Regions from separate parts of the Homo sapiens genome. Here region 1 is linked to region 2. The links come from fine-mapping of genetic effects on gene expression. A gene starts in region 2. The other region holds a variant in brackets. All regions are shown on one strand. Distances are between the middles of the regions.

Region 1 (4,394 bases), 60 kb after region 2:
AGCACTTTGGGAGGCCAAGATGGGCAGATCGCTTGTGCTCAGGAGTTCAAGACCAGCTTGGGCAACATGACAAAATTCTGTCTCTACCAAAAACATAAAAAATTATCCAGGCATGGTGGCACACACCTGTAGTCCCAGCTACTCAAGAGGATGAGGTGTGAGGATCGCTTGAGCCTAGGAGGTAGAGGCTGCAGTGAGCTGAGATTGTGCCACTGCACTCCAGCCTGGGTGACAGAGTGAGACCCTATCTCAAAAACAAAAAAATTACCCATGCCTTCTTCAAATGTTTCGACAATTGATAATCTTAAAACTTACAAATGCAAGACTTCCCTGCCACCATCTTCCTGTTGATGAAGTGAATCCTCAGATTTTCCTGATGAGTGGTTTTCTGTGCTTGCTTGATTTTGAATAGATGAAGGTTTATTCTGTTTTCCCATGATATAATACCACAATCTGGAAGAATTTTGTGAAGTTGCTGGGCATGCTTTTATAGAGCAGTTTCATGAGACTGGAGTGAAAATCACATTATGAGTTAGCATTGTTATCAGTTTTATTGGAGCTGAAACTGAGTGAAAGGATTTAGGAATAATTGGGTAATCAAAGCGAATTAAATCAAGAGAGGGGAAAATATCAGTTCTGGCATCAAATGGGGACTGCAATGACTTCCACATCTGTGGTCTTTATCCATTTTAATCAAGTCTAAATTATGCTATTAAGACTTATTTTTGTGACGTTTACTTGTTCAGACATAGCCGACTTTATATTCATCTCTGAATATTTCTTGAAACATTAAAACATTCTCACTATTTCTAGGCAAGAGTTACCTAATTTGATTAGCATCCAAATATTCAGAGTTGATACTGTGTTTACAATCATGAGTGCAGTGTTCAATGTAGTTTCTGGGTAATAGAATCTGCATACTAAGCCTTTAGCCCACATGGATGAATTCTGCATCCCCCAACTCATTCCCATGTCTTCAAAAAACTAGGTTTAAGTGTGCCTTGTTGGTATAAATTTGCTATAATAAATAGTATATCGTGCTATATGGCAGAAGTATGACTATACTAACTAGCCCAGTCTTGCTTTCTGGTTTTCTTTTGTTGTATTTCCCAAGGGGTACTGCTTTTGCAGTGAAAAATCTATTTTGCCTAATAAATGGTAAACAGTAATCAGCTTCCCCTCCCACCTCTTAAATATATGACTGACAATACACTGAATTAAGGAATGACATAGCACTAAATTCACAAACAAGAAAATTAATTTGGGAACCTTTGATTTTCTTTGATGAATTTTTTGTATTGTCTCTTATTGGAAAATTTGTCTTCAGCCTCCTTTTTTGCTCTGAGCTCTTTCCCCATAAATCTTAGAATCCTTGGTGTTCCCATTTGGTGGTTGGGTTTTGCTTTTGCTTAGTCTCATGGGTGCCCAGAAACATGCACTTCCCTGTGCCCAAATCAGGGGGTTCTTTGAAGCTTGATTGCACACCCCCAAAGAGACCAGTGGAGAGCTTCCCTCAGGAGCTGGCTGCTGTCTCTTAGAACAAAGGCCAGAGCTGAGCTGTCTGTGCATGAAAGGCTGCCGGCCCTTAGATTTCCCCTGCAAGCCTGGCTCTTGAAGAAATCACTTTAATTCTCTAGAGGTTTGTGGCTTACCATCAACTGTTTCATAGCTTGACCTTGTGGCCAAGAGAAGGACTCTATTTAGAAATATTTGTTATTGCTCCTAAGTTCAATTGTCATCATCAAAATCATCAAAGACACTTTATTCTAGCAAAAGTTAGGAGAAAGAATAGGCTTGAATATTTTCAGATATTAACATGGCTCTAGGAATTTAGAGAATTGCCTCTGTATGAAGCAATATGTTTTCATTCTTCGGGGAACTGGTTGAATATTAATCACATAGCATATATATATATATATATATATATATATATATATATATATATATATATATATATATATATATATGGAAACCTGAGACACAGAGAGGTTAAGGAACTTACCCAGAGTTACACAGCTAGAGGATGGCAGAGTCGGGATTCAAAGTATACATTCTCACTCTACAACCTGTGCCTATAAGCACCAGCTACATTATTGAAAGTACGTATGTTTTTGAGTATCATGACAAGGTGGAGTGTATTGAAAGTAGTGTTTTTCAAACCTTTTTGACTGTGACCCACTGGAATATACATTGCAAACTAGCCTGTATGCACAAATAAAACTAGTAAAACCACACAAAACAATACTCACCGTTACCATGCAGGGTGTGTATGGACTTTTCTTTTCTGTTCCACTTCATTTCTAAAGGGTGCTGGTCAAGACCCTTAAAATTGATTTCAGGACCTACTATGTAGGGAGACCCCCTGAAACTATTGCTACAGAATAAAAGATGAAATGCTTCTGATTATTGTAAATACAAAATTGCATGCAGGATTGTGTAAAGACAATGCCAGGTTGGACTGCCAGAATGAGCCAACAGCATGTGATGTGCTTCCCCCTGCAGAGAGCCTGTGAACGGACCTGAAGTCAGGGAGGTTTAACATCACCAAGATTCCTATCCCAGAAAAGCAGATGTTCATAGCTCTGG[G/C]AATGGAATGCGACCCTTGTGGAGAGCCTATAAACGGACGCATGAGGGGCGCCTGTTCATATGGATAAGACAGGCCTATAAACGCCCTCATCTTGCCACGGCTCTTCTAGGCCTCTTTAGGGTTAAGACATACTCCCTTCTGAGAATTTCTAGTCTAACTGGTTGTCTAGCTTCACATCCTGTTTCTATGGATTGTTTGTAACCAGCTTTTGCTGCAACTGTTACTGCTGATTAATATCTTGCTAATCATAGGTTATAGAAAGACTGTGTTTCTGTTTTAAGGCTCTGTTAGAAATTACTGATGCACACACTATATTGTAAATTCTTATCTCTGTATACTGTACTGCATACAGATGTTATGTTAAAGAATTACTTCATCCCCATGTGACCATCTCACCTCATAATCAAATGACCCTAAATCCCTCACTAACCTTCCCCTGCCCTCACTAAACTTAATAATAAATGCTGGCATATCCAGTACATTGGCGGCTCATGGGACCAGAAGGTGGTGACCCTCCTGGACCCAGCTTTCACTATCTTGTGTATGTCTATTATTTCTCGACCTGCCGATCCACCTGGGAACAAGGAAAGAGCCCCATTGCATTGCGGGCTGCTGGCCAGATCCTGCAATACTACTATAAGGTCACAATTTGCAGGTCAAAAACTATTGAATGTCCTGTAAGGTCACAATTTGCAGGTCAAAAACTATTGAATGTCCTAGATGTAAGCTCACTCTTTGGAAGACTCAGGTTCCCATTGTTGGTTGAATGAATGCCTGTCCGCTCCTTCCCCCAGTGCCCAGCACTGTTTGTTGATGGAGTGAATATATAAACAGATTATAATTTTTCTTTCTTCATATCTATTTTTTAAAATTATTTTCTCTCTTTCCCTTTTCTTTTTAAAAACCAAGAGCTGAAGTTTTCCCAAACAGAGATTGTTTAGGCTGGAACAGAGGTCAAGGAATACTTAATAATGATCTTCTTATGGACATATGTGTTATCAATGATTTTGGGGGTGTTTTTGAGATAGGGTCTTGCTCTGTTGCCCAGGCTTGGGTATAGTGGCACAATCACACCGTAGCTCACTATAGCCTCGAACTCCTGGGCTCAAGTGATCTTCCCACTTCAGCCTCCTGAGTAGCTAGGACTATAGGAGCATACCACCATGCCCAGATAATTTTAATTTTATTTATTTGTTTTTTTAGAGATGTGGTCTTGTTGTGTTGCCGAGGCTGGTCTGAAACTCCTAGACTTAAGCAAAGTGATGAATTTTTATAAAGCAATCACGTTTCCTTATTAATGTTAGTTGTAATTTTCACAGTGTGTCTGTATCTCCTGCTATTTCTAGTGCTTGCTGGTTCTGGGACCTTCTCTTATTCTCCTGGCCCACGCGGGCATCTCCTCCAGAGGCAGGTTAGTTTGGATGTGCTTTTCTTCTGCTCCATCTCTTTGACAGTTGAGGTATTCCCAGGCAGCCCTGGGGTCCGGGTTAGTCAGTCTTTCTAACATTTTCTGGAAAATGTTTGGCAGTCCTTGAGCTACCTATCATTGGGGCAGGGGGCCCTCAGAATGTTTGAGCCTGACCTTGGCTCAGGGTGGATCTCCAGAACATGTAGAACTTCTCTAGACTCAGGCTCAGGAGGAGTCCTCCATCTGTTGTTGGTGCAGGCACACACCTGGAAGCAATGTCAGGATGGACATTGGTGGCAAGGGCACGGACCAGCCTGAAGTACAGTTGTGCTGATGCCTTGGTCTAGATACAATATTAGCTCAAATAGTTGCTGGGCATTTGTCTTACCCTGGATAAGT
Region 2 (4,394 bases):
ATATGTTATGCTGTAGTTGCCCTCCAAATGCTTGTCTTCTTCAGCTGAATTAATAGAAGCAAGTTGTTTAAAATACAGAAAGCAACAGTACCGGCCTGTACTGGTCAGAACCCACAGAGGGAAAGTAGGGCCTCTTTCTGGAAACAAACTTTGATTGCTGGGGGTGGATATCATTGAGAAACTGGGTCAGAGAAAGGCCACAGGCTGGTGAAAAGTCTGGGAATCGTCGCACTGAAGGAAATGGCTATGCGTGACCCAGAGAAGAGAAGACTCAAGGGAACACGAAGCCATCTCCAAAGCCATGAGATGCTCTCTTAAGAAAGAGGAATTCTATTTAGCTGCGTGGGCCCACAGAGGAGAGCCAGAATCAGTGGGTAAAGGTTTCAGGGAAGTAGATTTCAGTTCAATATAAGAAAGACTTTTCTAAGAGACCTGCTGGCAAATATAAACAGGCTACCTTGATGAGTATTCAGTGAGGCTGAATGACCACTTATTAGAAATGTCAGAGAGGAAACTCAAGCATAGATCCCATGTTTGGATCAGATAAACTTGAATGTTCCTTTCAGTCCCAACATTCTCTGTTAAAATTAGATTGTACTCCAGCCAAAGAACAGATTTCAATGGCACTTAGATATATCTCTTATAATTGTTAAGAACATGTGCATGGTCAACAAATATTTCTGACCGTTGTTGATTTGGTGGATATTTAAAAAGATTTAGAAAATTTACTAAGAAAGAAAAATGGAATAAATATACAAACTGTAGAGGACAGTCACAGGACCTTGGGAAGGTGGATGGTCCCCTACTAAGATTTTGGGGTCCCAAAGTACAAGCTGTAGCAAAACTGGACTTGTGCTAGTCAACATCTTGTTTATTTTGTGCAAAGCTGCCATCTCAATTTCACACACACGCAAAAGCAAAAAACAAAATAACGGAGCTTGACTTATCTACTAAAAGCTAATCTATCCTGAAAGAATGTGTTAAAATTACTCCCAGTAAGAGCTGACACAGTATAAAAGCTGTAATTTCCCAACTACCATCAGTATGTGAGATTTTGGGAAAGTCGATAGAAGCAAAGGATGATTTAGTAGCTGTATCAGGAACATAGTTTTCATATCCACAAATTGCTACAGAATCATGGAGTGTCACTGGCTCTAAAGCGCTGCCGGTGGACGCCACCTCATTAGCTGACACCTCTTAATCACTGTGGCTGGAATGTGGGCTTCCCTATCTTGAAACCGACCGCGGGCGATCAGAGCCGGCGGCGAGTGAGAGCTGCAACCACTGCGGGCTGAGCTCCGACACCAGAATCGGCGCAGAGACAGGGGACCGACCAGGCCAACTCTCTCCACTTGGGGCTGGGAGGGCAATTACCACCGACCCCCTTGGCTTCCCATCTACGACCCCGGAAGCCTCCCCTCCTCCAGGTACCCAACCTTCTGCGTGTCACCAATCACCCGCTACCCCCGCCTCCCCGCCCCCGGGAGCGCCTCCCAGGCCAAGGCTCCGAGGGCCCCGCGCATCTCCAAGACCGGACAGGGGTCCTCACTCGCAACACCTGCGGCTGGCAGAGGGAAAATACCAAGGGTGTGGGGGAGGGGGAGAGTGTCTCTCAGCCGCCTCAGATGGTCCTTCGGGCTCCCTGGGGACGCGCAGAGCTTCGGCGGAGATGGGAGCGGGGAGGGGTTAACGCGGGAAATTAAGAGACTCGGGCAATTGGCGGTGCTCAAGTTAACCGGGTCTGTGGCGAGAGTTCTGGGGTTGGGAGCTGCCGGCCGCGCACTCGCCCCGGGTCTGCAGCCACCGCCGCGGCGGTAGTTCTAGGGCGGAGCGCTCTCCCGCGCCGCGCCGCGGGCTGGGGGCACCAGAGGCCGCGCGGAGGCCGGGGCGGGCACCTGAGCTGGCGCGCAGCCGGGGCAGGGGCTGCAGTCCAGCGCCGGGGAAGGGGCGACCGAGCTGCGTGCGTGTGCAAGACCGGCCGCCGGCGCCTCGCGCCCCGACAGGTGCAGGCGCGCGGGCTTCCCATTGGTCGCGGCGGCGGGCCCCTTTCCCCGTCCCCGCCCTCGCCAGTCTCCGGCCACGCCGCGGCGCCGGCTGGGTTGGCAGAGGCGCGTGCTCGCGCGCCCGCGCACCCCTCGCCCCGTCCCCGCCCCCCCACTCACCCCGTCCCCACCCACTCCCTCTCTCCGCGCCGCCGCCGCCGCGCGCTCGCGAGTTCAGGTAGCGGGCGCGCGGGCGCCTCCGCGGGGGCGCGCGGCCGGGCTCCCGTCCTCCCCCAACACCCGCCCGCTCGGGGGCGCCTGGGGAGGGAGCGCGCGGGCGGGGGAGCTGGAGCCGAGCGCCGCCGCCGAAGCTTCCGTCTCGCTCGCTCGCGCAGCGGCGGCAGCAGAGGTCGCGCACAGATGCGGGTTAGACTGGCGGGGGGAGGAGGCGGAGGAGGGAAGGAAGCTGCATGCATGAGACCCACAGGTAAGACCGACAGTCCCGGAAGGGTCTTCCATTCCGAGGAGGCGCGCGCAGGCCGGGGAGGGGGAGTTGGTGCCTGGTGCAGCTCCCCAAGGGAGAATTTTTTTTTTTTTTTTGACAGCGCAGAGAAATCTCACTGGGGACTGGGGCAGTAGGATCGATCCCAATCCCGAGGAAAACCAGAGAAGTAGCTGGGGGAGACGGTGCCACATTGTGAGATTCCCAGAGTGAAATGTATAGGCCCAGGGAAAAGTGTCTTCGCGGCCCCGAGACGCGGGGAGGCTCTAGACTTTCCTGTGGTGGGCACAGCTGCTGAATCCCGGGGACCGGCGCGGAGCCAATGTGCGCTAACCCCTGCCCTCCCTCCTGTCCTCCATCCCCCAGCACGCGCAGCATCCCACGGCGGCTGTTACTCAGTGCACCCGGCTCGGGGGAAGGCGGGGGACCTCGCCGTGGGAAAGGGGGCGGGGGCCGCGCGGGGGAGGAACCAGGATGGAGCCTGGGAAGCCGAGGCGCCGGGTCCCAGAGCGGAGGAGGGGGAGCGTGGCCCCCGAGCCCGGACAGACTGGCTTATTGTGGTGTTCCGCTTCTGGTTGCAGACTCTTGCAAGCTGGATGCCCTCTGTGGATGAAAGATGTATCATGGAATGAACCCGAGCAATGGAGATGGATTTCTAGAGCAGCAGCAGCAGCAGCAGCAACCTCAGTCCCCCCAGAGACTCTTGGCCGTGATCCTGTGGTTTCAGCTGGCGCTGTGCTTCGGCCCTGCACAGCTCACGGGCGGTGAGTGACCCAGCTGTGGTGGGAGGGCCTGGGGATGGCCCAGAGGGGAGAAAGAGCCTAGCTGCCAGGACAGCCCTGCACCCCTCCCCCATACACCCAGACTTCAGGAGGATCTGACAACGCGAGGGTGCCTGCGTCCCAGCCTATGGCCGCCCTTCTCCGAAACCGCTGGAGTTCCCTGAAAATTCCCATGTGGAGCCCGCACAGATTCACACACCCACATTCTGTCTGGAGCTTCCCACCAGCCTCCGGGCCTGGCTTCTCCCAAGGAAAGACAATAAAGCCTGGCCCATTATTCCCACTTTGGCCAAGGAAGCGGGGGCGGGGGGGGGAGGGGTGGGGGGTGGGGGCAGTGGGGAGTGGTGTATTTGTGGACCTCTTGCCAATGCCTTCAGCAGATAGAGGTCAGATTTCAGCCTCTGGATTTAAGCAAGAGTTTAAGAACCACCTTTGAGAATGTGAAGGGTCTGGAAACGTGGTCAGACTGGCTGCGGGGCAGGTTTATTTGAAAGTTAACTTTCCCTTCCCCTGTGTGTGCAGCATGTATGTGTATGTTGGGGGCGTGGAGGAGGTGCAGAGGTATTCTTTCAGGTGTGCCTCTGACAGATTGCTTTGCTCATCGAGGTATGATTTCAGGGAATAAAGTCAGTTGCTCTTCTATGAAGTAGAAGTTAGCTGAAATAAAATTGATAGCCTCAGCCTCCGTGGGCGGCTAATCTATAACATATTTGGTTCTGGGGGAGGGGTATCTTTTAGTTGTGGTAGAGGAAGACAGATGGAGTTCCTGTCTGAATTTGAGAGCCTAGTCTCCCTGCCTCCACTGCTCATTGCTGTCCATCATTCCTGTCCATTGCAAACGTTCTCTAGAGCTTGCTGATGTGGACGTTAAAAGGAGCTGAGATACTGTTAATATATAAATAAATTATCTTTGGTTGAAAAGCAAGTATTGACTGATGTAAATAAACCATTTTAGCGTTTTAAAATATTGCTGTTTCAGAGAATTCAAAGGTGAAAATGGAAAAAAAATGAGTGAAAAATTAGCAAAAGTGGAGGAGAGGTGTAATAAGTTGGGCTTTAACACAGAGTAATCAATAACCCAGGCATTCCACTTAGACATCTGAAAGATGCCCAGAGTATAAAGGTGTT

The links. PIP is the estimated chance that this variant, and not a neighbour inherited with it, causes the effect. A credible set is the group of variants that fine-mapping cannot tell apart.
Region 1: its variant is the best candidate, but not a certain one, in a credible set for the expression of SUSD4 in whole blood (TOPMed, PIP 0.71).

Annotation. Positions count from the first base shown.
Region 1 is chr1:223,302,367-223,306,760 of GRCh38, reverse strand. All of the region lies in intron 2 of SUSD4 (sushi domain containing 4), which reads left to right. Among named protein-coding and RNA genes, the nearest start is that of SUSD4, 60 kb to the left of the region's middle. The variant G/C (reference allele first, on the strand shown) is at 2,587.
Region 2 is chr1:223,362,132-223,366,525 of GRCh38, reverse strand. It overlaps SUSD4 (sushi domain containing 4), which reads left to right and starts at 2,350. Exons shown (of 9, transcript NM_017982.4): 1 at 2,350-2,469; 2 at 3,066-3,248. The coding sequence starts at 3,101.